Linked DNA regions of Homo sapiens: region 1 is linked to region 2. Evidence: fine-mapped expression QTL. A gene starts in region 2. The other region holds a variant in brackets. All regions are shown on one strand. Distances are between the middles of the regions.

What was found.
Region 1: its variant is fine-mapped to the expression of MICALL2 in esophagus mucosa (GTEx, PIP above 0.99).

Annotation. Positions count from the first base shown.
Region 1 is chr7:1,420,748-1,436,377 of GRCh38, reverse strand. MICALL2 (MICAL like 2) reads left to right here. Exons shown (of 17, transcript NM_182924.4): 16 at 1,231-1,277; 17 at 1,706-2,019. The coding sequence ends at 1,782. Among named protein-coding and RNA genes, the nearest start is that of MICALL2, 31 kb to the left of the region's middle. RefSeq lists an enhancer at 7,280-7,835 and a silencer at 12,971-13,265. The variant A/G (reference allele first, on the strand shown) is at 6,271.
Region 2 is chr7:1,453,362-1,464,420 of GRCh38, reverse strand. MICALL2 (MICAL like 2) reads left to right here and starts at 4,951. Exons shown (of 17, transcript NM_182924.4): 1 at 4,951-5,237. The coding sequence starts at 5,095. MICALL2-DT (MICALL2 divergent transcript) reads right to left here and starts at 4,502. Exons shown (of 2, transcript XR_001745046.2): 1 at 4,154-4,502; 2 at 1-579. RefSeq lists enhancers at 3,194-3,488, 3,025-3,576, 3,577-4,128, 5,552-6,274, 6,275-6,997 and silencers at 4,459-5,178, 9,614-9,908.

The DNA of each region.
Region 1 (15,630 bases), 30 kb after region 2:
GAAGTTTCCCTCCTGTTGCCCAGGCTGGAGTGTAGTGGTGCGATCTTGGCTCACTGCAACCTCCGTCTGCCGAGTTCAAGCGATTCTCCTGCCTCAGCCTCCTGAGTAGCAAGCTCGCACCACCATGCCCGGCTAATTTTTTGTATTTTTGGTAGAGACGGGGTTTCACCATGTTGGCTAGGCTGGTCTTGAACTCCTGACCTCAGGTGATCTGCCCTCCTTGGCCTCCCAAAGTGCTGGAATTACAGGCATGAGCCACCGTAACTGGCCGTAAAGTCTTAGTTTTTTTTGTTTGTTTTGTTTTGTTGTTTGTATTTTTTTTTTTGAGACAGAGTCTTGCTCTGTCGCCCAGGCTGGAGTGCAGTGGCCGCAATCTCGGCTCACTGCAAGCTCTGCCTCCAGGGTTCATGCCATTCTCCTGCCTCAGCTTCCCAAGTAGCTGGGACTACAGGCGCCCGCCACCACACCCGGCTAATTTTTTTAGATTTTTAGTAGAGACGGGGTTTCCCCATGTTAGCCAGGATGGTCTCGATCTGACCTCGTGATCCGCCCGCCTCAGCCTCCCAAAGTGCTGGGATTACAGGTGTGAGCCACCGTGCCCGGCCAAAGTCTTAGTTTTTAACTTGAACTTCCAAGGCCACGTGCGTCTCCTGGCTCCTGCACGGACTGTGTGACTGTCCCCGACAGCTTTCCTGTCTCGTCTCATGAGGGGTCCAGCACATGGCATTCTGGGTCGGCACCTGAAGTCCACCTCTATGAGACCCTCTGGGAGCGTGACGGGGCCTTGGCATGGGTCGGCCGAGGCCCTTCTGTCCCAGGTCACTGGTGTGGTCGGCCCAGGCCCTCCTGTCCCACATCACCTGTGTGGTCGGCCCAGGCCCTCCTGTCCCAGGTCACCGGTGTGGTCGGCCCAGGCCCTCCTGTCCAGGTCCTCCTGTCCAGGTCACTGGTGTGGTCGGCCCAGGCCCTTCTGTCCCAGGTCACCTGTGTGGTCGGCCCAGGGCCCTCCTGTACCATGTCACTGTTGAGGGGCTGGCTCTGGAAGAGGGCAGGGACTTGGCATTGGTGGGGGCAGGGTTCCAAGGTGTGGCCTGTCAGCAGGAAGGGGCAGGTGGCATGGGTCCAGGCGGGACTCAGGGCTGGGGTGCCACTGCTGGAGACTGTCCGGAGGCCCCTCCAGGGCACCTTGCCATTGCCATTGTCGCTCATGGCCATCTGGTCCCGTTTCAGGGAACAAGAGGAGGATCAGATGCTGCGGGACATGATTGAGAAGCTGGGTGACTGGGCCGGGGATGCTGAGGGCTGGGCTGGCTGGCTGGGTGGGCCGGGGATGCTGAGTGCTGGGCTGGCTGGCTGGGTGGACCGGGCCTCCAGCTGGGGGTGGGGGGGGGGCGGGTATCGGGTCCCCCCCTCAGCCTTGGTGACAGGACAGGCAGGTTCACCCTGAGGGTGAGAGCTCCCTCCCGCCCCTAAGAGAGCCAGGGGCAGCTGGTGACCGTGTGGTCATGGTGGGGACCAGCCCTCCGGGGCACCCAGTCGGGGCAGGTTCTCACGTGGGAGGGCACAGGGCTTCCTGCAGGCTCGGAGGCCCAGGGCGGATTGTGGCCAGTGGAAGGGAAGGATGTTTCTGGCAGGGGGACTTGTGTGGGCCACGGCTGTGCGGCTGCGGCGTTGAGCACGGCCTCACTGTCCACCTGTCCCCTAGGCCTCCAGAGGAAGAAGTCCAAGTTCCGCTTGTCCAAGATCTGGTCACCAAAAAGCAAAAGCAGCCCCTCCCAGTAGTAGCCAGTAGGGCCGTGGGCTCGGCCCGGACCTGGCATCCGGACTTGGACTCGGGGCCATGGGCTTGGCCCGGACCCGGAACCCGGACTTGTACTCGGGGCCGTGGGCTCGGCCCGGACCCGGCATTCGGACTTGGACTCGGGAAGGGCCTCCTGTCCCTACAAGGGGCATGTGGACAGCAGGGACCTGCGCTACCGTCTGTGGTCTCAATAAAGAAACCGACCACATGGCCCCGGACTCCTACGTGCCTCCGTGTTTGCCTCGGTGCCCCTGGGCGGCCCCGCACCTGCCTGGGGTCTCGCCTGCCTCCCAGCTCTTGCCTGCAGGACGGACGTGCTCTGTGGCCTCGGGCAGGAGCCGACCCTCTCAGGGCCTGGCCCTCGAAGGTGGGCCCTTTCATAGCTTCCTGGCACAGATGGGCTGGTGGGAGCCTCAGAGGAGACGTCGGTACAGGCTGGAGACTTTGGGTGCTGGGTCGCCATGTATCCGTGGCCTGAGAGCTGTGACCTCGTTCTCCCAGGACTGGGGCTGGGATGGGGGATTGTAAGCAGTGGCCCCTGGTCAGGGAGACTTCCTGGTGGCCAGGGCGGGATGTGGGGTGCCCCATCCTTTCTGACCCCCACTGAGAGTGGATGTCGTGGGAGGAGCGCTGAGTCAGGAGTGCAGCGTCCCTGTAAGCCTCAGTTTGCCCATCTGTGCGGGGAGGGGCGGGCCTCAGCTGCTTGTTGCTGCGCTGTTTCAGCTGCTGTAGGAGCCTCTGCGGCGGTCCTGGGGAACCCTCAGCCATGGCAAAGCACCAGTGTTCTCCACCTGCTGGCTGGGGGGGTCGGGACCCCACGGGTCCCAGCAGGGCCAGAGCAGGTTCAGAGCCTGGAGCCCCTGCCGTGTGCGCGTGGGCCCTGGGGAGCTTGTGCTGGGCAGGCCTGTGGCATTCCATGGCCTTCACTGTGCCTTTGAGGGTCTCAAGACTCCTGGAACGTGAGCTGGGTGTGGGGCATGGAAGAGAGGGTGGGCTGGGGTGCACGGATGGAGCACAGCCTCTGCAGTCACAGCTCTGCTCCTGGCAGCTCTTTGGCCTCGGGCTAGGGCACTGCCCTTTCTGAGCCTTTGGTGACATAGGCTGCCTGGGGGCCGTGTGAGGATGAGAGGGGCCCACCGGTGTGCCTCGGGCAGTGATGAGGGTGGAGGAGCACGGAGGTGCTCTCTTGCCCTCTGCTGACAGCGAGACCCCCGCTGCCTCCCTCTGTACCCCCTGCTTCTGCCAGCCACTCGGGGCCCCCGTGGAGGGAAAGGGGCTCCCCCAGATGAGGCCATGGGTCACCTGCACACAGCAATGAGTGGGGAACGGGGTCGTGCTTTGCCTGGCCCTGAGGCCTCTCTTGGAGTCAGGCCACTGGGACCGAGTGTGTTGGTGGAAACTCCCTGTGCCCTCCGAGGACTGGGAGGCAGTGGCTGGCAGCAGTGGGACCCTGGAGCCCCCAGGAGACTTCTGCAGGGGGGGGTCTCACCTGGGTGTCGAGGAGTAGGGGTCTCTCGGTGGATGGGCAGGGTGTGCCCTATTGCAGGAACAGCATAGGCAGTGATCTTGGGAGCTTGAAGATGTGTGGTGGGGCAGGTTGGGGCGGGGCCGGGGTCAGGGTCAGGTGAGGCGGAGCGGGTGATGGAGAGAGAGGGGCTCTGTCAGGACCTGGGCCGGCAGGGACCTTCCAGGTGCAGCGAGGTGGCCTCGTTCCTCAGGCACTGGGTGCCTGGGGTGGTTCTGAGCAGAAGCCCCAGGGCCTCTGCTGTGTTAGGAGCATGACGCCGTGGAGGGCGGTCTGGACCGGGTCCCGGAGCTGAGCCTGTGGGTCCCCCTGGGATCTCAGCCCCGTGGGTCCCCCTGGGATCTCAGCCCCGTGCTCACGTCGTAAGGCCTGACCCGCGGCAGTGTGGCCTCTTCACCACCAGGGGGAGGCAGAGAGCCACTTAGTGGAGAGGGGCAGCCGGGAGCCTGGAATAGCTCCGTTTTTCAGACAGGGAAACTGAGGCTGGGAGAGGGCTACGGCTCTCCCACGTCACACAGCAAGCGAGGCGGGGCCAGGGCAGGGGGCTGCGTAGCATTTTTGAGACCAGAACGGGAAGGGAGTGTTGTCCAGCAAGTTAGGGGCGTGGGCACCTGGGGCTCGGTCCTGCTGTGGACTCACACCTGGGGGTGTCCCACCGCAGGGCCAGGAAGCTTCCGCCCCCACCATCAGCCCCCTGCATCTGGGGACCTCAGAAGCAGCCCTGGGGTGCCAGGTGCGCTCCAGGCTGGGCACACAGTTGGTGCTCAGTGATCAGAGCCCCTGCAACAAGTGGTCAGGTCTGCCAGGCACTAAGCCAGCCCTGCGGGATGTCCTTGCTGTCCACCAGGGGCCCAGCACCTGCAGACCCCGGTGACACCATCATGGAGAGACAGGCAGGAACGCAGCCCTGGGGCCATGGGCGTTGGCCAGGCCCTGTGATGCCTGTGCTGCCTGTGCTGCAGGAGGCTGTGAGGATGGGCGTGGGAACCCCTGAGCAGCCACTCGGGCACAGGTGGGGCTGGCTGCGCCGCCGCCCGGCTCCTGCAGAGGCTGCCCCAACCCCAATGTGGAAGAGTTTCAGCCCGGGCCCCACCCACCCTAGATGACCCCTCACAACTTTCAGGGAGGGCAGAGGCACGCAGTTCCCCAGTGGCCTGGCTGGACGTCACCCACACCTGCCAGAGACTCCGGGCCAGCGTCTCGTGCCTGTGCACGTGGCAGGCAGTCCATGCACATCAGAGGCTTTCTCTCTACAGACATGGCTAGGAACAGCCAGTCTTCCTGAATGGATATGGGGGTGGGTGGGGCCGCAGAGAAGGGGAAGAGCTGTTCCCTGACCCACATCCCCGTCGGCCCCTGTATCTGCACTGGCCTCAATACTACAGCCTCAGGTCTGGGGAGCAAGGGCTGGATTGAGGAGTGTTCTGGGCTCAGGGACCGGTGTGGTCCTTCTGGTGAGCTCTGGGGTGGGGAGCTGACACTGGCCCCGTGTGGCTGCGTCAGGAGGGACAAGGAGGGAGGCAAGGCTGGACCAAGCAGAGTCTCCACTGGGATGCTTGGAATTTGGACTTGGACTTGAGTGGCCCCTCCAGGCCGGGCACAGGGGGCCAGCCCAGCCATTACAGGGCACTGGTCTGTGGGAGGGTGGGGGCAGCTGGTGGGGACTTGTGTTCACCCCTTGCGAAGCCAGGGCAGGCTTGGGCTGATTCCCAGGAGTTCTTCCAGCCTCACCTCTGTCACCCTTGCCCCCTCCGCTCCGGCTGCCGGGCCTTGGCCACGGGCGTTTGCATTTGCTGGTCCTGCTCCTGGGGCCCCTGCACTCCACATAGCTGGCATCCTGCTATCTCTGCTTAACTGCCCTTTTCGGAGAAGCTCCTGCCCCTCACCCTGATTTCTTTCTTTCTTTTTAGAGACAGGGTCTCACTCTGTTGCCCAGACTGGGGTGCAGTGGCGTGATCACGGCTCCCTGCAGCCTTGACCTCCTGGGCTCAAGTGATCCTCCCACTTCAGCCTCCCGAGTAGCTGGGACACCCGGCGCACGCCACCACGCCCGGCTAATTTTTAAAGTTTTTTTTTGTGGAGACACGGTTTTGCCATGTTGCCCAGGCTGGTGTTGAACTCCTGGCCTCAAGCAATCCTCCTGCCTTGGCCTCCCAAACTGCTGGGATGACAGGCGTGAGCACACGGCCACCCTGGTTTATTGCCAACACTCGGAACGCACCTATGTTTAGATGCTTGTTTGGGCTTCCTCTCTGTGACGGATCCTCCGGAGGTCCCGGCTCCTCCGTCTTTCTGCCACGCCATCCTCAGCGCCTAGAACAGTGCCTGACACACGGCAGGAGCCTGATGAGGATTTGTTGAATGAATGAATGACACCAGGGCTCAACGCCACTCCAGGACTCAGTCTTCTCACCTGTCAAGGGGGCTAGCACCTGGCCCAGGGTTGCTACCTGGTCCACTGGTCCAGGGAGACAGACCTGCTTGAGCCTGACTGGTTTCGTACTTGTGGGACCCCCGGGGCTGCCCCTGCCCTGCCCGGGGTGGGAGGATTGAATCAGGTCTCGTGGGGTGGGCAGTGGAGCCACTGCCAGCGGGCACACACCAGGCACCTCCTGCCCTACCCAGACTTGGGCTGAGCAGGGGAGGGACAGGGAGGGACTCGGGAAGAGAGCACAACGTCTCTTGGGGGATTTTCCGGGCATCCCACAACGGGGGGCTGCCCTGTTCCCTGGGGCCCAGAGAGGGAGCCTGGCCCTGGCCCCGAGTGATGAGCACAGCCCGGCCGGGCCCAAAGACCGCCCCCCACCCTGATCTGTGTAAGCTGCGGGTCCCGGCCGGGGCCTGGGAATGTCATAGCTGGTCTGCCCCGCAGGGAGCGGGGAATTGACATGCAGAGCAGACCTCAGCCGCTTCCATGGTGGGGCCCCCTCACCCCTGCCGCCCC[A/G]TCTGCCCTGCCCAGGCCTCCTGCTCCAGCCCCGCCCCGATGCACAGGAACTGGCTTGGCCCTTCCCACAGCACCTCAGCTACCCCCAGACCCGTTTTCAGAGGAGGGTGTTGAGGCCAGAGAGGGGAGGGACCTTCCCAGTCCCTGAGCCTGCCAAGGTGGGCCCAGCTTGGGGTGGGGACAGAGGGGCTGCTCCTGGCTGGGGCAAGAGTTGGAGGGGTCTCCGATGGGGGCATGGCCACGCCCTGTGCCATGAAGCCCCTCACAGAAACTAGGGAGTCGTGGGCAACACCCTGTCCCTGTGACAGGAGGGGAAACTGAGTCACGGAGTGCCCAGGGCCCCATGGCAGGAGTGGGCAGGGCCTGGTTCTTGTGCCTTGGCCTCCATCTGGGAGGAGGCAGGGAGCAGAGCTCAGACTCCTCCCAGTGAGGGCCCCCCATGTGGCTCTGCTGCACGGCCCCAGTTGGGGGGCTCCCTGGGTGGGGGGGCTCTGGGAAGCCCACAGTTACCCCCAGGTAGAAATGTCTGTGGCCTGCACCTCTGCAGCCTGGCCTCCTTCCAACCTCGAGCGGCCGCTGTGAGGGTGTCTGGGAAGGAGGAGCTTTTCCTGTGTCTTCTGGCTTCTTCCTGCCCCTCCACGTCCTTCCAAGGCCTCACGGGGACCCCAGGGACAGCCATGCCTTGCTTCTCTCGGGTGAATCATGGAGAAGGGGCCTCCTCTGGAGCCCAAGACGCAGGGGGGCTGAAGGGGTCTCCTCTGGAGCCTGAGACGCAGGAGGCTGACGGCTGCCATGCAGGCTTGCTCCCCAGCGGCCATTCCCTGCCAGGCCCACCCTCACCTTTGTGGGGCCCGGGAGAGAGTTGAGCCCGAAGCTCCCCCCACTTCTCCTCCCCGGAAGCCCTGTTTAGCTTTGGGAGGGAGGAGCCTCCCACCTCGGGCCTGGGAGCCTCCACGCCAGGGCTGGGAAGGCCTCAGGAGGACTCGAAGGGGGTTTCAGGGTGTGCGCTCAGGGAATTCTGGGGTCCCGGGTGCTGGGGCATCAGGTGGGAGGTGGACATGAGCTCTGGGTGGCCCCCTCGGCCCTGCAGACCCCGCCAGGAGGGGCACAGCCAGATCATACGTCCGGGCCCTGCTCCTGTCTGCGGGCCTCCTGCTGGGTGAACCTCCCTCACCCTGAAGCTGCCCTGGCTCCTACTGGTCTGGAGCTTGGACTCCCAGGGCCCTGCTCCCCGGGGACCCTCCCGGCAGAGGCCTTTGTCTGGCTGGCTGTGATGGGTCCTGACACCCCATCTGTCTGTCTGTCGGTCCACCTAGGTGTTTCCCCCCGGGCCGGCCTGCCGTGACGATCACAGCCCTGCCGTCTCAGGTCACGGTTTTGGATTCTGCGCTAACGAGGTCTCCCAGGTGGGCTGGAAACACTGATGAAGACGGATAGAAAAAACACCAGCCCACCGGATTATTAATAAAGATAATCACACACACCCCTTCGTCGGCAGCCGGCCTGACACTTTATAAAGCACGTTAGGATATAATCCAATTGAAACTGCAATATCGAGAACATCTCATCTTATCACAAATTGAAATTATATCACATTCCTCTTTTCTTAAATTAAAAAGCTAAAACCTTTTCGTTTGCTCTCACACAGTTGTGTAAAACTTAATCAGTGGTTTTAACAACATTATATTTCCATATGGGCCATTTCTAGTCTCGACTTACGGGGGAGAACTTTCCAGAAAAGGGGCGATTGGTTTTGTGAGCAGGAGCAGCAGGCCCGGGGTCAGTGCCTGGCAAGATGGACTTGGCCTCATCTGCACACAGGCGGTGGCTGGGATCAAGGTCCGAGGATATACCAGGGACGGCGGAGGGATTTCAGCAGATGCATGTTCCCATTTTAAGAATTGCCACCTTAAATATTATATATATATATATATAGAGAGAGAGAGAGAGAGAGACAGTCTCGCTCTGTCGCCCAGGCTGGAGTACAGTGGCACAATCGGCTCACTGCAACCTCCGCCTCCCAGGTTCAAGTGATTCTCCTGCCTCAGCCTCCCGAGTAGCTGGGATTAGAGGTATGCGCCACCACACCTGGCTAATTTTTGTATTTTTAGTAGAGACAAGACTTTCACCATGTTGGCCAGGCTGGTCTTGAACTCCTGACCTCAGGTGATCCGCCCGCCTTGGCCTCCCAAAATGTTGGGATGACAGGTGTGAGCCACTGCGCCCGGCCACCTTAAATATTTAAGAGGGAGAAGGATGCAGTCACACAAGTCACAGCAAATTGAAAGCCGAGGAGAGCAGAAGAGGCAGGCCCGGGGACACAGTCCCAGAAAGCCACCCTTGGGGCCAGCGGGACGGAGGCTGGGTCTAACACTAAGTGGCCTGGAGGCCCAGAGGACAGGGACTCGGCCTGCAGGGGCGGGCGTGGAAGCAAAGACTTTCTGCTTCAGTTTTGCACTTCAACAAGGCCCTTTCCCTGGTAGCCGAGAGCAGCTGTTGGGGGTTTCGCGGTCTCTAAGATGAAAAGAAGCCATCAGGCTAGCAATTATAAAAATGTATTTATTTATTTATTTTTGGGACAGGGTCTTGCTCTGTTGCCCAGGCTGGAGTCCAGTGGTGTGATCATAGCTCACTGCAGCCTTGACCTGCTGGACACAAGCGATCCTCCCACCTCAGCCTCCGAAGTGGCTGGGACTCTAGGCGTGCATCACCACGCCTGGCTAATTTTTTAACTTCTTGTAGAGATGGGGTCTCACTCTGTTGCCCGGGCTGGTCTTGACCTGCTGGACACAAGCGATCTTCCTGCTTCAGCCTCCCAAATTCTGGGATTACAGGCATTTTTTTGTAGAACTGGGGTCTTGCTATGTTGCCCAGGCTGATCTCAAACTCCTGGGCTCAAGTGATCCTCCTGCCTCAGCCTCCCAGGTAGCTGAGGCTGCAAGCATGAGTCACCGTGCCTGGCTCTCGCTTCGTTCTTTTTACTTTTTTTAAACGCAGCTACTAGAAAATTGAAAATGGCAGGTGTGGCCCATTCATTGTGGCTCGGGTTCCATTTCTGTGGACGGGGGTGTTCTGGCACATTGCAGGGTCTCCTGAGATCCTGCTCACCATTTTTGGGGTGTCCACCATCATGGTAGCCCCTCCCTCGTCCACATCCTGTCCGTTTTCTCCCACACGATTTCCTGGGTCTGAGCGTTCCCCTCCACCAGCCCCTGACTCCAGGACTCTCCGTGTCTCCCCACCCTCCCCAAGTGAGCTCAGTGTTTTGGTGGCCCCTGCAGAAGCCCTCTGGGGTTTCCTGTTACACTCTAGGCTAAGTCCAGCTTCACAGCAGGACCCTGTCCCCCCAGGACCCCATCAACCCAGGCCCACACACACCCCCATGGGATGAAACTAGTGGGTGCTAGTCACGGGGAGATTCTGTCCCGTGGACGCCGCCCACGGCCACATCATTGAAGGTCCAGGTGGGCAGCCTCGGCCGCTGTCAGCGCTCTCCCGGAAATGTTTGTTCATCCTTTCGTCCTTCATTCCATCCTTTTTGTTCCTGAGATGGAGTCTCGCTCTGTCACCCAGGCTGGAGTGCAATGGCACGATCTTGGTTCACTGCAGCCTTCGCCTCCCGAGTTCAAGCGATTCTCCTGCCTCAGCCTCCGGAGTAGCTGGGATTACAGGCGTGCACCACCATGCCCAACTAATTTTTGTATTTTTAGTAGAGATGGGGTTTTGCCATGTTGGTCAGGCTGGTCTCGAACTCCTGACCTCAGGTGATCCACTGGCCTCAGCTTCCCTAAGTGCTGGCATTACAGGTGTGAGCCACCACATCCGGACCCTTTGTTCCGTTCTTTTAATTGAGCATCTCCTCCATGCCAGGCCACCCGCTGGTACCACAGCCCCACACCAGCAAGAGACCCACCAGCTCCTGTCCTCGAGGACCTGGTGGAGGCATAAAGAGAATGGCAGTCCTGGGGGCCGGGGCTCTGCAGGGACGTGGGGCCCTGGGGAGGGTGCTGAGGGGAGGGAGAGGCAGCCTGGTGGGAGGGCTGCGGCTGAGCCAGGCAGGGGCCCTGAGGCCAGGGAGAGTTGCAAGTTCTGGCCAGGCATGGACTCCGTCCGAGTGGAAAGGCTGGGAGAGGTCAGAGGGGCAGGATGGTGGGGTGGGGCCCGGAGGGCGTTAGGTGGAGAGACATGGGACCAGGGTGGTCTTCGACGCCAGCTCTGGCTGTGGGTGTGAGGTCCAGGGGGCAGAAACCAAGGACATATAACCCCCTCGCTGACATCCAGGGCCCACCAGGTGTGGCCTGCTCTATCCTCATTGGCCAGAATATAGTCACATGGCCAGGGCAGGCTGCAAGGGATGCTGGGGAATGTAGTTCCCTCTGGGGCTTGCTGTGGCCGCTAAAAGGGGAGGTGGGGAATGGATATTGGGGATGCATGAGTGATGTCTGGCTGCAGTGACAAAGTACCGAAAATGGGGGGCTTCAAGGAACAGTTAGACTTCTAGAGGCCAGAGTCTGAGATCAAGATGTGGGCAGGAGGCCAGGTGCGGAAGCTCATGCCTGCCATTCCAGCACTCTGGGAGGCCAAGGTAGGAGGATCGCTTGAGCCCAGGAGTTTGAGATGAGTCTGGGCAACATAGTGAGACCCCATTTCTACAAAAATTTTTAAAAATTAGGCCAAGTGTGGTGGCTCACGCCTGTAATCTCAGCACTTTGGGAGGCCGAGGCAGGTGGATCACCTGAGGTCGAGAGTTTGCGACCAACATGGAGAAACCCTGTCTCAACTACCAATACAAAAATTAGCGAAGCATGCTGGCACACACCTGTAATCCCAGCTATTTGGAGACCGAGCTGGGAAAATCGCTTGAACCCGGGAGGCGGAAATGGCAGTGAGCCGAGATCAGGCCACTGCACTCCAGCCTGGGTGACAGAACAAGACTCTGTGTCAAAAAAAAAAAAAAATAAAATAAATAAAATAAAATAAAATTAGCCAGGCATGGTGGCATGCACTTGTAGTCTCAGCTACTCAGGAAGCTGAGGGGGGAGGATTGCTAGAGCCTGGGAGTTTGAGGCTGCAGTCAGTCACGATCGTGCCACTGCACTCCAGCCTGGGCGACACAGTGAGACTCCATCTCAAAAAAAAAGAGAGAGGGTTGAGTTTAGGTTGAAGGTAGCCAATCTGAAAGCTCAAGGCAGGAATTAGGGATTTGCTAAGGGAACCCTTCTTTCTGAAGTCAGAATCTACTGATTAAGGGTTCCATGAGGCAGTGCTTTGCTGTGGTGAGAAAGGCAGTTGTTGTGGTCCAAGCTACAGCTGGTACCAGCAGAGGAAAGAAAATCAAGGGTTCAGCAGAAGAAAGTCTTGGGATTCTAAGTCCGCTGGAAACCTCCCATTAAGAACATAGTATGATTATGTGGCAGACACAGCCCCCAACTTTGCTGGATGCCATCTGGTATTTGGGGTGCTGTGGTGGTACACAGGACTCACGGTGCCACAGCAGCCAGTTTGGGACCATGAGGGATGGTAAGGCCGCCAAGCAGAGACGAGCTGGGCAGAAACAGGGAAGGCTGCTGGGTCTTTGCTGACCTCCTGTTGGTGTCACTGAGCCCTGAATTAGCCAGTCTAGAACCTTCTTATGTGTAGATTTCTTGTTGGGAAGGATAATGAATCCAGGGTCGTGTAAGCCTCTTTGACTTGAATTTCCTGAGAGCCAAGTCAACACCCTATTGGTTTCCATTGATGTCACGCCGACGGGATGTCCTTCAATTCCCCACACCGTCTGCGCTGGGGCCTGGGGGTTGTCCAGCCCCGTCCACTCTCTTGAAGTCAGTGGGGATGCTGAGGCCCAGGAAGCAGAGTTGCCATCCCATCCCCGACCAGGGCAGAGCCACTGGGCCAGCCTCCTGCGCCATGGCCCTCCCCAGGCCTGCACTGGGTCTGGGGCCACCTCCCTGTTGTGGGACCTTTGCAAGACCCCGTTTTCCATGGAAGTGAGGACAACAGTGACAATGACACGCCTCCCCAGGCGTAGCCCCTTCTTCTGACCTTGAGTCAACCAGTCCCCAGGAGGGTGGGCGGGATGGGGCTGGGGAAGGTGAGCTTGACAGCTTCTCCACGTGCTGCTCCTGCCGCCTCTTCCCCCTCACTCCCAGCTCAGTCTGTCTCTCCCTCCCTCTCTGTCTCTGTCTCTCCCTCCCTCTGTCTGTCTCCCTCTCTCCCTCCCTCTCTGTCTCTCCCTCCATCTGTCTCCCTCTCTCCCTCCCTCTCTCTGTCTCCCTCTCTCCCTCCCTCTCTGTCTTTCCCTCCCTTTCTGTCTCTGCCTCTGTCTCTGTCTCTCCCTCCCTCTCTGTCTCTGTCTCTCCCTCCCCTTCTGTCTCTGACTCTGTCTCTGTCTCTCCGTCCCTCTCTCTGTCTCTCCCTCTGTGTCTCTGTCTCTGTCTCTCCCTCTCTGTCTCTCTCTCCCTCCATCTCTCCGTCCCTCTGTCGCTCCCTCCCTGTCTCTCCCTCCATCTCTCTGTCTCTGTCTCTCCCTGTCTGTCTCTCCCTCTCCCCCTCTCTCTGTCTCTCTCTCCCTCTCCCTCTCTCCCTCTCTGTCTCTCTCTCCCTCTCTCTCAGTCTGTTTCTCTCTCTCCCCCCTCTCTCTTCCTCTCCCCACTCCCCCTTTTCTCTCCCTCTCTGTTACTCCCACAGTTTCCCTGTCATTCTCTGCAATGTGGGCTCATCCATTCTGCTTCCAGCAGGCTCAGAAAGTTCTGCTTCTTATCTGACCACTGCAGAAGGCTGAGATGCCGCCAGGTGCCACTTCGTGTCTTAGGGTTGGATGCAGGGGCTGGGGGTGCCCCCTTCTCCTTGGCTTAGGCTGACCTGGGTGTGCCTCCGGCCAGAGCTCTCAGCCGGGCTCAGAAGGCCCCAGGGACCGTGGGAAGCTGTCGTTGCTTGGAGCGGGTGAGGCCAGACCAGAGCAGCCAGCAGCGCTTGGCGAGGCTCCAGGCAGCAGCCAGGTAGCCAGCTGCGCTCCTCCCTCCCCTGGAAGTGGGGGGCCCCTGGGGGACCCCTGTGTCACATGACCCATCAGCTGACAAAACAGGATGACTCAGCCAGCAGCTGTCGGCCCCCTGAAATAATGACAAAAACAATTAGCAATCCAAGCAGTAGCCTTTCCTTAATTATCTCCTCCGAGTTTAATTAACTAGCTAAATTATCAGCAGTAATGTAGGCATTAATTATGTCAAATTACAGTGTAAAACTCACAAAGTGTGGAAAATGTCAATTCAGCTTGGCTCACCTGCCAAGCGGGGGTGGCGAGGGCGTGCATGTACCTGTGCGAGTACCTGTTTGTGCCTCGGGGCCGGCGGGGCCATCAGGGCTGGGGCAGGGGGCAGGGGGCAGGGGGCAGCGTCTGCAGGGCTGGACGGAGGGAAGACACCGGGGACAGGGCGGGTGGGGCCCTGGGGACACCGGCGGGGGTGATGGGGAAGCTTTGGCTCAGACTGAGGGAGGGAAGGGAGCCTGTTCCCGGACCAGATGGCCAAGATGCTGAATTATTAAATTATGAATATTAATACAAATCAGACACAAAAGAGGTAATAATTTTGCTGCCCTACAGAAATAATTAACATAATTTTGATAAATTACATGATAAGAGAATCTCAAAATTGAGGTAGATTTATCTTAATTAATATCTTGGACCAGCTCCGAAAGGTAAATTGTTCCTTGGGGGGTTGGGGCAGAGTGAGGCTGGGGTGGGATTCGGCCCCTGGCCAGGGCCCTGGTCTCTTTCTGTCACAGAGGCTGGGGTGGGGGGACAGGGTGGGAAGATTGAGGACCCAGTCTGACTCAGTTGCACTGGAGCACCTTAGGCGAGGGGCGGCCCTCTCTGAGCCTCAGTTTCCCTTTCTGGGAGCCTGGGTGGCCGGCCCAGCTGGCCTCACGGGGCCTTCAGCGGGGACTGGCTGGGAGCTGTGGCTTTGGCCAAGCTTTTGCCACCCAAATGCTCTGGCCGAGCCCGGGGACACCTGCCCTCCAACTGAGCCACACACCTGCCTATTTACCTGTGCACACCTGGCCAGGGAGACTGAGGACCCAAGAGCTCGTCCCAGCAGCTTGTCCCATTTCTGAAGGGTCTGGGCCAGGCCTCATCCTCTTCAAGCCTCAGTCTCCCTTTGGTACAATGGGAGTTGGGCTGCACAGATGCTGAAGACTGTTGGCCACCCCCTCAGGTCTCACTCCGTGCCACTGCCATCCCTCTGCGGGGCCAGCCAGTCTTGTGGTATGGGGGGCAGTTAGCAAACCTCCAAAGATGGGGAACCAGCCTTGTGCAGGGGCACCAGGGCACCCAGGACCCCGCCGGTCCTCAGACTCTAGCAGCCTGGCCTCCCATGTCCTGGGACCACAGACAGCCCCTCAGGTGCTTGTCACCCAGAGGCCAGGGCTGTGTCAGGGCATGGGGCACCTGTGTGGCTTTAAGGCCTGCCATCTGCCCCCTGGCCCTCGGGACACCCTGCCGTTTGCTTACTCTGGCAGCACTGGCCTCTGCAGGTTTCGGACAACCCGGGCACACTGCCTGATGGCCCTGCTGTCCACAACATTCTGTCCTGGAGTGGTCGCCCCGACCTCCCCAAGTCTTCAGTGGGTCTCCCTGACCACCCCCGACGAGGGCAGGGACTTGATCTGTCCACTCGCCGCTGTATACCCGGGGCCTGGCACATAGCAGGTGCTCAGCAAAGTGTCACTGAATTGATTTGTTGATGAACACAACGTCTTTCGTGCGAGGTATACATCACATCTGATGTGTCAGACACCGTGCACGGCACCCACTAAACATCCGGCCACATCCGCGTTCCAGGTCCCGTCCCAGGAGCCGGCCGCATCCCCGTGGTGAGCGCTGCACGCCTCTGCACCCTGCCTTCCGAGGCACAGAGCCGCCTTCTGCACAGTCCGCACTCTGTGTCACATGCGGGAAATGACACGCTCCACCATCCGTGAGCCACGGAGCCCGGAGACTGTCCCCCGCGTTGAGTAGGGTGTGGCCCCCTCAATTCCTGGCACGGGACGCCCATGGGATGCGTGTTACGTATCAGTCACATCACACACATGTGCATACTAAGCCAAGGAGGCTAGGCTCAGGGCCTGGGTTACCCCCAACCCTGGAGTGTGTGCACACTCATGATTATACGTGGGTGTTCATGCAAGCACGTGTGTTCATGAACGGGTTTTTGGTTTTTTTTTTTTTTTTTTATGGAGTCCGGCTCTGTCGCCCAGGCCTGGAGTGCAGTGATGCGATCTCAGCTCACTGCAACCTCTACCCGCTGGGTTCAACCAATTCTCCTGCCTCAGCCTCCTGAGTAGCTGGGAATACAGGCA
Region 2 (11,059 bases):
CAGCCGCAGCACCGGCCAGGATCTCCTGGAGGCTGGGGAAGGAGCGGTGTCGTGAATTATTTGTGAGGTGTTCAGACGAGAATGTATACTCCCCATAGCACACCATATAAATATGCTATTAATATACCCAAGGTGGCATGCATTATTCATGGAGCCTAATTAATTAATGGGTGGCCCCTTAAAATGGGGTGTCACAGCTTCCAGCTCCCTGTCCTGCCGGGGGCAGTAGGGATGGCATTGGTTGATGGCAGCCTTGGGGGTGGGGAGGGCAACGTCCCTTCCACGCTCTGCAGGGGGGCTGACGTGGTGCCCCACAACCGTCCACAGGGGTCCTGTGGGCAAGTCAGTTTGGGAACCACTGTGCAGTGTGTCCTCTCCCTGGAAGAGTGGAGGTGCGTATCAGGTGATGAAGGCTCTGAGAAGTCCCGCGGGAAACACCACTCGGCCAGGACACCTCCCTTGGTTCTCTCTCACGCCCTCTGCATTCCCGAACCGCCTCCGCCTCCCAGACTCAAGGATCCGATTCTGTTCCAGCTTGGCCCAGCAGCCTTGGTCAGGTGACGTTCAGGGTTGAATCCACTGGTGGAAGGAGTCAACCCCTCATAAGCCTGCCCCACCCCTCCGGGTGTGGCACCTGGGTCCCCACCTCTGCAGCGCCTCTTGGGGACCCAGGAGCTAAGCTAATGCAAGCCAAGGTGGATGTTTTGGACTGAAATGAGCGATGCCTCAGGCCATGTCCTCCCTGGGTCCCCAGCACGGGCCCTGCCACCCTGATGGGCTGAGAGACCCCTTTCTCCCTGCCTCCATCATCTTTGAGGGGTTCAGAACACGTGGAGGCTGGAAGTGGGGAAACAGGTCATCTGGCCTGGAAGTCCTGTCCTGGACCAGGGTGTACACTTGGGTAGGACACCAGCTGGGCCGACCTTCTCCCGGGCCTCACCTGGTGTCAGAGTCAGGGCCGCTGCCTGAGAGGGCAGGCTGAAACGGGGGGCCTTCTCCCCTCCCTCCTCCCCTCCTGTCTCCTCCCCTCCCTCCAGTCTCCTCCTTTCCTCTCAGAACCTCAGTTTTTTGAGGTGCAGAATCAATAGAGCCATTTATTTTGTAGATCATAAACAGGGTCTTGTTTTGTCACCCGGGCTGGCGTGCAGTGACATGATCACAGCTCATTGCAGGCTCGACCTCTCAGCCTCCATCAATCCTCCTGCCTCAGCCTCCTGGATAGGTGGGAGTACAGGTGTACACCACCACACTCGACTAACATTTTTGTATTTTTTGTAGAGGTGGGGTCTTGCTATGTTTTCCAGGCTGGTCTTGAACTCCTAGCCTCAAGCAAACCTCCCACTTCAGCCTCCCAAAGTGTTGGGATGACTGGCATGATCCCCTGCACCCAGCCAATCTTGGGTTTTAAACCCACAGCCAACCCACACCCATATATGTATGTGTACACACACACACATTAATGTCTCTGTCACCCAGTCTGGAGTGCACTGGTGTGATCACAGCTCACTGCAGCCTTCTGTTCTCATGTGATCTCCCGCCTCAGCCTCCTGAGTAGCTGGGACTACAAGCATGAGCCACAACACCTGGCCCAGAGCCACTTTTTTTTTGGGTGGCGAGCGGCAGGGTGGGGAGAGTCTTGCTGTGTCACCCAGGCTGGAGTGTAGTGGTGTGATCTCAGCTCACTGCAACCTCCACCTCCCGGATTCAAGCGATTCTCCTGCCTCAGCCTTGCAGGTAGCTGGGACTACAGGCATGTGCCACCATGCCCGGCTAATTTGGTATTTTTAGTAGAGACGGGGTTTCACCATGTTGGCCAGGCCGGTCTCAAACTCCTGACCTTGGGTGATCGTCTCAACTCAGCCTCCCAAAATGCTGGAATTACAGGCATGAGCCACCACCCCTGGCCCAGAGCCACTTTTAAAGGGTGGCTGTAAGTATCAAATGACAATGTAGGCATGGAAATTGGTGGGAGAAGTTGGAGTAGGGGCCTAGCCGGGCCCTGCTGCCTGCACCCCTTCCTCCCGCAGCCCCTGCACCTCCTCCCAGTCCCCTGCACCAGCGACACCAGCCTATCTTCGAGTCTTCCTTCCTGCCGCAGGGCCTTTACAACTCCTGTTCCCTTTGCCCTTTCCCCTTCCTCTCCAACAAAGTGATTCCTACTTAGCTTAGCCTCCAGGTCTCAGTTCTCGTGGTCCTTCCTAGGGAGGTTCTTGCTCTATCTTCTGTCTCCCTCTCTTCTCCTCTTTCTTTCTCCCCTCTCTTTCTCTCTCTGTCTCTTTCTCCCCTTTTTCTCTCTCTCTGTTAGTCCCAGGCTGAGGTCATCATCATTTCTAAAGGGCCTGAAGTCTGGGCCCCCATCTGAGTCCCCATCCTGGGGCCTGTTGAGCTCACACCGCTCTTACCTGTTCCCCACCCCTGGGTACATCATGCTGCATTTATTGCGTGCCTGGGTGGGTACATCATGCTGCATTTACTGCGTGCCTGGCCGTGGGGTAGCCCTTGGTGGAAGGGGACCATGATGTCACTTTGCAGATGAGGAAACTGAGCCCGAGAGAAGGCAGTTTCCCAGTGAGGCCAGAAGGCAGCGGGTTCCCCGGGTGGAGGCTCTGTGTTGGACGGGGGAGGCGTGTGCAGAGTCCACATGGCAGCCCTGGGGAGCACAGATGGGGACCCTGGGAGCCTTCGGTGGCTCCAAGGGGCTTCAGGGTGGGGGTCTTGGAGGATGAGGAGGAGGGGCGGGTGCTGGGGGCCGGTGCGGGCGCAAAGCTCTGGGGTCAGCGTGGCAGGGTGCGGCCGGGGAGATGCAGCGTGATAAGCCTGCGGAAAGTCTGATAAGCAACCTGGACTTTATTCGAAGGACAGCCTGGGAGGCTCCCGGCAGGGGAAGGGCTTGGTCAGGCCTTCTAGAAAGATCCCTCGGGCTGCTGGGGAGGGTGGACTGTGGTGGCTGGAGGGGCAGGAGGCAGCCCTGTGGGCAGAGGCGGGGGGACAGGTCGTCTGGATGGGAGGGTGGCAGCCGTGGGCAGTGGGGAGAAAGGACCATTTGTTTGGGGGTGTCCTGGCTCCTGGCTTCGGGGACCCTGGAGGGACATGGTGTGTGAGGTGCTGGTGGGCAAACGTCACAAATGCTGCCTCCCAGCTCACTGGTGCCAGAGGGGGGCCGCGCAGGATGGGCCACGGGGTGACCAGTGAGATGGCTTTTTAAGTGTGCAGTGGTAAAAGTTCACGATAAAAGTGAAACCCAGGCCACCTCCCACACCACTCCTTTTAAGGGAGCTGGGCCCTAACGCCTGTCCACCCCTGTGTCCCCCATCCCCCACTAATTCCCCCCGCCCACTGCCCCGCTGCTTCTGCTTCTTGATCTCTCCCTTCTTTTCCAGCTCTTCCGGTTCTCCTAACCGTTGCCCTGGGAGTCAAGAAAACCCGGTGCCAGGACCGGCTCCGGCTGTGCTGGCACGATATCCCCTGACATCCGCAGGTCAGGGACTGTGGCGGAGCAGCGGTTAGGGCCAGCCACATTCCCAGGCCACAAGGGCTCCCTGCCTAGCAGCTGCTTGCATGCCCCTGGTGACGGGGAGCTCACCACCTACACACAGGCCTCACTGACACTTAGGCAGCTGGCCATGAACACTACGGTGTCTCACCAGGGACCAGCCTCAGAAAAGATCTGGAACAGCACCATTGGCTGGGGTTGGAAGACCTCAGTTTCTCCTCCTCCCAAGGGGCACAGAGAAGCTGCCCTGACTCCCTGCCAGGGGCTACTGCGGGAAAACACCTTCCTTCCTGCAGGCCCTGCCCAGACAAGCCCTGGCCCCACAGCCAGGAGGGTAGGCCCCCCTCACATGGCTGGTGTCAGTGATTCCGCCCTCGTCCAGCCCCCGTGGCCACAGACAAGGTTCCCCAAGGATAACGGGGCCAGGGGCCAGTCTGGGATAATTTAGGGCCCCAGCAGAGGGACTTTCCTTATTTCTTCTGTCACAGCTCAAAGTGGAAAATTGGAACTACCCTGCAAGTCAGCCTGAGGAATCTCCTGCCCCAGGAACAGATCCTGCCCACAGGCCCCCAGAAGAAAAGCACAGGCCAGCTGTGCAACTCCGGCTCCACGGCCCCCTTCCTGGCCTCAGTTTCTCCTCTGGCAATGCCCAGGCCTCACCTCTGCCTTGCCTGGAACCCCCGCTGGCATGTAGCGGCCTGGAAAGAGAAACCAGATGCGGACGTCCTTTGAAACCCTGAAACACAAGGCGCCTCCTGCTCCCCGGGAGGCCGGGCTGCCGAGGGCTGAGGCCCTAGACAGGGCAGGGTGTTCGAGCCTCAGTGTCCCCGTTTGTCAACGGCCTTTCCTGCCTCTTCTCCATGGCGGTGGGGTGAGATGGTGGTGGGAGGTGGGGCGGCGAAAAAGAAAATTCCAGGTCTCCGCAGGGGTCCAGAATGGCAGGACCCCCAAGCAGACCGCGCCCCTTCACCGGTTGGGGGTCTCGGCCCTCAGCGGCGGGGCGGGGCCTGGGGAGGGGCCAGGCGGCGTGGGGCGGGGCCTGTCGGGCGGGACCTGACAGCGTGGGGGCGGGACTTACCAGGAGGCGGGACGTGCCTAGGGCGCGAGCCCGTACTGGGGCCGGGCGGCGTGGGGCGGGGCCTCTCGGGAGGCAAAACCTGGAGGCTGGGGGCGGGGCCTGTCCGGAGTCGGGGCCTGCCTGGAGCGGGAGCCTGTGCCGGGGCCAGGAGGCGTGGGAACGGGGCCTATCAGGAGGCAGGACCCGGCGGCTGGGGGCGGGGCCTGTCGGGAGGTGGGGCCTGCCTGGGCGGGAGCCTATGCCGGGGCTGGGAGGTGTGAGGACGGGGCCTATCCGGAGGCAGGACTTGGCGGCTGGGGGCGGGGCCTACAAGGAGGCGGGGCCGGCGGGGGCGGGGCCGGGCTCGGCTTCTCTTAGGGACCCGGCACTCGTCGCCCTCAGTCCGGCTCAGCTGGGGCTGGGCGCCGTGGGTCTGGCGGTTCCGTAGCGGTCCCAGCGTCTGTCCCGCCGGCCGGGCGGTCGCGGCACAGCCGCGGGAAGGTGTCGGAGGGCGGTTCCGCCGCGCGGCGGGCGCGCCGCCCACATGGCGGCCATCAGGGCGCTGCAACAGTGGTGCCGGCAGCAGTGCGAGGGCTACCGCGACGTGAATATCTGCAACATGACCACGTCGTTCCGCGACGGCCTGGCTTTCTGCGCCATCCTGCACCGCCACCGGCCCGACCTCATGTAAGTCCTGCCTGGCGCCCTTTGATTCTTCTGCTGTTCGGCTGCGCGCTGACACGGGCGGGGAAACTGAGGCCCGGGCGGCTGGGGGATGGGGAGCCGAGGCGTGGGACTGGGCAGGCACAGCCCACCGTGCAGCCCCCCGAGGCTGTCCTCAGTGGCCTCAGTGTGCCCGGACACCGAATGCAGCTGGGCCAGAGCCATGGCATCCCCCGCCCGCCGGCTGAGTCAGACGTGACTCAGGGCGGCTCCTGGGCCCTGGCTTCAGTCCAGTCCCCCTCTGTGTCCCTGGGAAAGGCCAGCAGAGCTGCCTCTTTGGGCCCTCCGAGGCTCTCACTGCCCAGGGGCCTGGCCACCAGATGGGGTCCCTGGATAGCCCTCGTATGGGCACTGACCCTCCCCCAGCCTGTTCAGGCCCCTGGGGGGATGTGGCCAGGGCCACTGTGGGGGAGCGGCCAGTGCAGGGCAGGAAGCCCCCAGACCCCAGGTGCTGCTGCCAGCCGGGCCTCTGAGGCCCCGGGTGATAGGGCCCGAGATGGAGAACAGCCCCCATCTCTGGGAGCAGCAGGAGGTGGCAGGGGTTGAGGACTAGGCTGTCTCTCCCCAGGAGGGTCTTGGCGTGTGTAGCTGGGCAGCTGGCCCTGCCCGTTGCTGAATCTTGGCCCGAGCCTGGACCTGCTCCATTGTTTATTCACTCAGCAAACGCTCTTTGGCTAAATGACTGGGACCAGGCTTGCTGGGACAGAGATCTGTGTGTCGGGGCTGGGGGCCAGACGCTCAGGAAGGGGGGCCCTCAACGGCCACCTGCAGCCCAGGCACCTTCTGGGCAAAGCGTTCTCCTGAGTGTGTTTTTGGTGGGAAGGTCTCGGGGTTGGGAGGAGCCACAGGCAGCACCTGGGGCCTCTGTCAGGCCGCAGCTGTGCAGACCAGAGAACCGAGGCTAAGAGGAGGGGTCCTTGCTCAGGTCACACAGCCCCAGCCCGTTGCGCAGATCCGGGGCTCCTCCCCTGTGCCCCTGGACACTGTCCTGCCAGTCCCACTCTCTGCAGGAAGCTGGGGTCTTGAGCAACAGCCTCGGCCCCTGCTCTGAGGTTGTGACATGCATTCGTGGAGCCACCAGGGGCTTCCATTTGGCGTTTGGGCAGCAGCCGCTCTCCCTCGCCAGGAACGTGCCTCTGTTGCCCTTGCAGGCAGAAGATGCTGGGCACAAGGTGCGTGCTTCCACATGGAAAGCCTGACGCTGAGCTTTGAAGGAGAGGGCCAGGGACCTGGAGACTGGGAGAAGGACCCGGAATGGGGAGGAAGGCAGGCGAGACCCCACCCCCGGGGCTGCAGGGTCCTGGATGAGGCTGGCTGGTGGCTGAGCCCAGGCATCCAAGCTGGGGCCAGCCCGAAAAGCCTCTGGGGTGGGGAGAGGCGTTGCCACCGGCTGCTGGCCACCAGCTTCATGGATCACTGGTGTCGCCGGAGATTTGGGGCCCTCTGGTCCTGGGGAGCTTCTCTGTACTCCCTGCCGGCTCAGACGTGCCTGTGGGCAGTGCCCAGGGTGAGCACAGGTGCATGTGCATGCACTGGCACGGTGGTCGCTGTGTATCTCCTCAGTGCACTGACAGTTATTGAGTACCTGCTGTGTACCCAGCACTGAGTCCTGTGCCAGTTCCCCTCAGCCTCCAGATGCAGGGAGCAATGTTCCGGTCACAGAGACAGACAGGGAACAGGTAAATGAATAAAAGCCCAGGGTGGCTCCAGAGAGTGCAGAGGCCAGAACAGGAAGGAGGCGGGAGAGAGAGGAGGCCCTCTGCCCCCAGCTCCGGTGGGTGTGGAGTTACCCAAGCTGTGGCTGACTTGGTTCTGTCCCCACTGGACTGTCAGCTCCAGAGGGTGGGGGCTCTGTTTTGTTCACTGCTGCACCCCTGGTGCCTGGAACTGGGCTCGGTAGATACCAGCACATGGTTGGAGTTCTGCAGATAAGGGCCTTTCAGTTGGGGTTCAGTAGATATGGTAGGAGCTTAGTAGGTGCCCACGTGCAGAAGGACAGAGGAGAAGGCCATGTGCCCTTGGAGGCAGAGATCAGAGAGGTGCAGCCACAAGCCAAGGGTGTCCTGGGCTGGAAGAGGCAGGAAGGACCCTCCCCGAGAACCTCCTTAGGCAGCAAGGCCCAGCCCACACCTTGATGTCGGAGTCCGGCCTCCAGAGCCGTGAGAAAACAAATTCCTGGTGTTTTAAGCCCCAGAGTTTGTGGCAATTTGTTACGGCAGTAGGAAGAAGCTAGTACAGGCTTCCATGGGTGTTGGGGCGTGGGGGCCTCTGTAGACCCTGGCTGATGGAAAACCCGGAGTGTCATGGGGGTCGGGTGTGCACCAGGGTGTGGGGACATGCGCTTGTATGGGTGCCTGGGCCCTTTGCTTTTATTCCAGAGTTGGAGTCTCGCTCTGTCGCCCAGGCTGGAGTGCAGTGGCACCGTCTTAGCTCACTGCATTCTTGAACACCTGGACTCAAGCAATCCTCCCACCTCAACCTCCCGAGTAGCTGGGACCATGCCTGGCTAATTTTCTTATTTTTAATTTAATTTTATCTATTTATTTATTTATTTATTTATTTGAGACAGAGTCTAGCTCTGTCGCCCAGGCTGGAGTGCAGTGGTGCGATCTCAGCTCACTGCAACCTCCGCCTCCCAGGTTCAAGTGATCCTCCTGCCTCAGCCTCCCAAGTAGCTGGGGTTAAAGGGGTGCACCCCCACACCCAGCCGATTTTCATATTTTTTCTAGAGACGGGGTTTTGCCATGTTGGCCAGGCTGGTGTGTAACTCCTGACCTCAAGTGATCCATCTGCCCTCTTCAGCCTCCCAAAGTTCTGGGGTTATGGGCGCGAGCCACTGCGTCTGGCCTGTGTCTGGCTACTTTCACTCAGCATATTGTTTCTTTTTTAAATTGAGATGGGTTCTGGCTATATTGCCCAGGCTGGTCTTGAACTCCTGGCCTCAAGTAATCCTCCTGCCTCAGCCTCCCGAAGCGCTGGGATTACAGATGTGAGCCGCCGCGCCTGGCCCCTGGCTCTTTGGACGTGCCTGCCTCTGTGCCTTCATCACCCCCATCCCGTGCCCTCAGCCTCTGCTCCCTGCCGTACCTCTGGATGAGGTGGTGGCTGGGGTGGAGGTCTCCTCATGCAGCCCTTGGCTGTCCCTCCTGTCCCCAGTAGTCTTCAGGAAGGGAGGAAACGCGTGTGAGGGACAGGCACAGACCGGTTGTCCTCTCAGGGCAGCTCTGAGGTCAGACTCTGTGTGAGGCCCCGCCCTTGCCACCTCATTCCCCTCTCCTTCCAGTGAAGACCCCTTGACAGCAGAAGGGTGGACGTCCTGTCTCCCTGTCTGTAGCTCTGCCACCAGGAAGTCCTTCCCTTTGTCTGGCCTTAGTCCTTCCTGCTGCACGCAGAGAGCACTTCCGCTTGGCCCTCAGGGAGAGCAGCTGTGAAGGAACCAGCTCGGGCGCCAGGCCAGCCAGGTGGGGCACCCGGGCTCCTGGTTCTGCCTCTGCCCCACCGACCCCGGGTGGAGGGGGCGGGGATCCGGACATTCCTGTGTACCATGTTCCGGCTCCTTGAGCCACGTGTGACCACACTGGGGAGCCCCACAGGTACAGAGAGGTGTCCGTGAATCTCCGCTTTACGGCCAGGAAACAGGATCGCCCAGCCACGCCCACCAGGAGGTGGCAGGGTGGGCGGGTCCCCTGCCTGGTCAGCCTGCCTGTGCCCGCCTGCCCTGTCTCACCTGCGGCTGTGGGTTCTCTGCAGCCAGGCCTCAGGGCGCCTGCCCCCGGGCGCTGTTTCCATACTGGTGTCACAGGGCAGCTGGGCAGCCAGGTGAGCTCAGAAACCACCCAGAACAAACAGCCCCACCTCCCGCCTCACCTCCCTCAGCCAGTCAGCCTGTCGGGGCTGGAGCAGCTCTGCCATGGGCTGGCTCCTTTCATTCCTGGGCCCAAGCAGGTCTCCAGGCACAGCCCTCGGGCAGATGGGGCAGGGGGCACAGCGTGTCTGGGCTGGGAGGGAGCAGGGCTGGAGGGAGGGCAGGCGTTGTGCGTGGCGCAGGAAGCCGTCCAGCAGGTGGGAGAACATTGCGGCCTCCTTCTTGGGGTTCGTGGCTGGGGGCATTTGTCGGATTTGTGGCCAGGCCTTGGGAGGGTGTCGTGAAGTTGGGTCTCTGCTGCACCCTCAGTTCCAAGGCAGGGTCCCTTAAGTTTTCCTGGTCCCTGCAGCTCTGGAGGCGGGCTCAGGGCTGGGCCAGGAAGTGGGGGTGGCTGGGGCGGCCGCTGTGCAGTGCATGGAGCCCTCCAGCAGTGGCTCCCAAGGGTGGCGGGGCTCCCCGAGACACCACTATTGTTGGGGGCCAGGGGAGAGACTCACGCAGAGGCCCCCACCCAGAAGCTCCCAGGCAGTGCCCTCACTTCCTGGGCCAGGGCCGAGGGTGGGCTGACCTCCTCTCCCACGCGGGGTTGGGTCAGCAGGAAGCTGCTTGTGGACAGAGGCCTTCTGTTCCTGCCCCAGGGCCTGTAGCCAGACCTCTGTGGCCGCCTCTGGCCGGAACCCTCCAGGACGGGCGCGGGAGGGGGCTGCCTGTCCACCTACTGCAGGGGGACTGCCCAGGGCCCCACACTTTCCTTCCAGAGGCCCAGTGTGCAAGGTGGGGGCTCTGCGGCCTCCCCTCCCCAGTCGTCACCGCCCCCTGCCCACCCCCTCCTCTCCTGAGCTCTGCCTGGCCATGTCCTCGCTGTCTCTGAGGTTTGCTCCTTCCCCGAGTCCCCTCTCTGCCATCCCGACTGTGCCATCTGGTCCCTGTCTCTCTTGGGCCTCCCTCCACCATCTCCGCTGGGGTCTTCCTCTCTCTCTCCAGCTCTCTCTGTCCGTCCACCTGCCTCTCCCCACTCCCTCTGCTCCCTTCTCCGTGGGATTCTCTCCTGATGTGCTGGATGTGCCTCGGCTGGGGCTCCTTCCCTTCCAAGTCCTGCACCCCCCCGCCCTCCCCACTCCATGGCGGAATCTTGTTCCAGGAAGTAAACAGTGTGATGTCGGCCACCCAGGAATTTGGAGGGGGGTATACATTCCCAAGAGCCCCCAGAGGCGCCGGGGCAGAGGCCGGCTGGACTCCATGGGCTGAAGTTGATGGTCGTGGGTCAGTTAGAGGGGTGGTGGGGGCAGGTGTGGCCGGGCAGGGGCACGCACGGTGGAGAGTTGGCCAGGGCAAATCTTGTGACCGACACACAGACGGCAAATTCATTCCTTCAGCCAGTGTTGAAAGAATAAGTTACTGCCACAGAAATCTCACCAAGCACAGAACAAATGCATCACACGCATTTATAGGGCACCGACTGTGTGCCTGGCCCACGGTGTGTGTCTTGGAGCCGGGCCATGGTATACCTGATTTTAATTCTGAGGCTTCAAATAAGAGAAGATTAAACCCTGGAGGATGCCATGTCTCGGAGGTGGGCAACCTGCAGCCCCCATCCCACAGCCTGCAGGTTTGCAGCGGTGGCTGGGGCTGTGTCCCAGTTCCAGCCGTCTCACCATGGGTAGCTGGTCACTTGCTGAGTGGGGGGAAGCTGATGCATTTTTGTCCGGCAAGGACAGGGGTGTCCACCTGCTCAAGCTGCCCTTGCAAGGTCCCCCAAACGGGCGGTTTCAACAACGGAAAGTGTCCTCCCGCAGTTCTGCAGGCCAACGTCCCGGACGGAGGTGTGAGCAGGGCTGGGCCCTCCTGGGGGCAGGAGGGAGGATCTTCCCGGCCTCTCTCCTTGGCTCTGGGGTGGCCGTCTTCGCCCTGTGCCTTCACA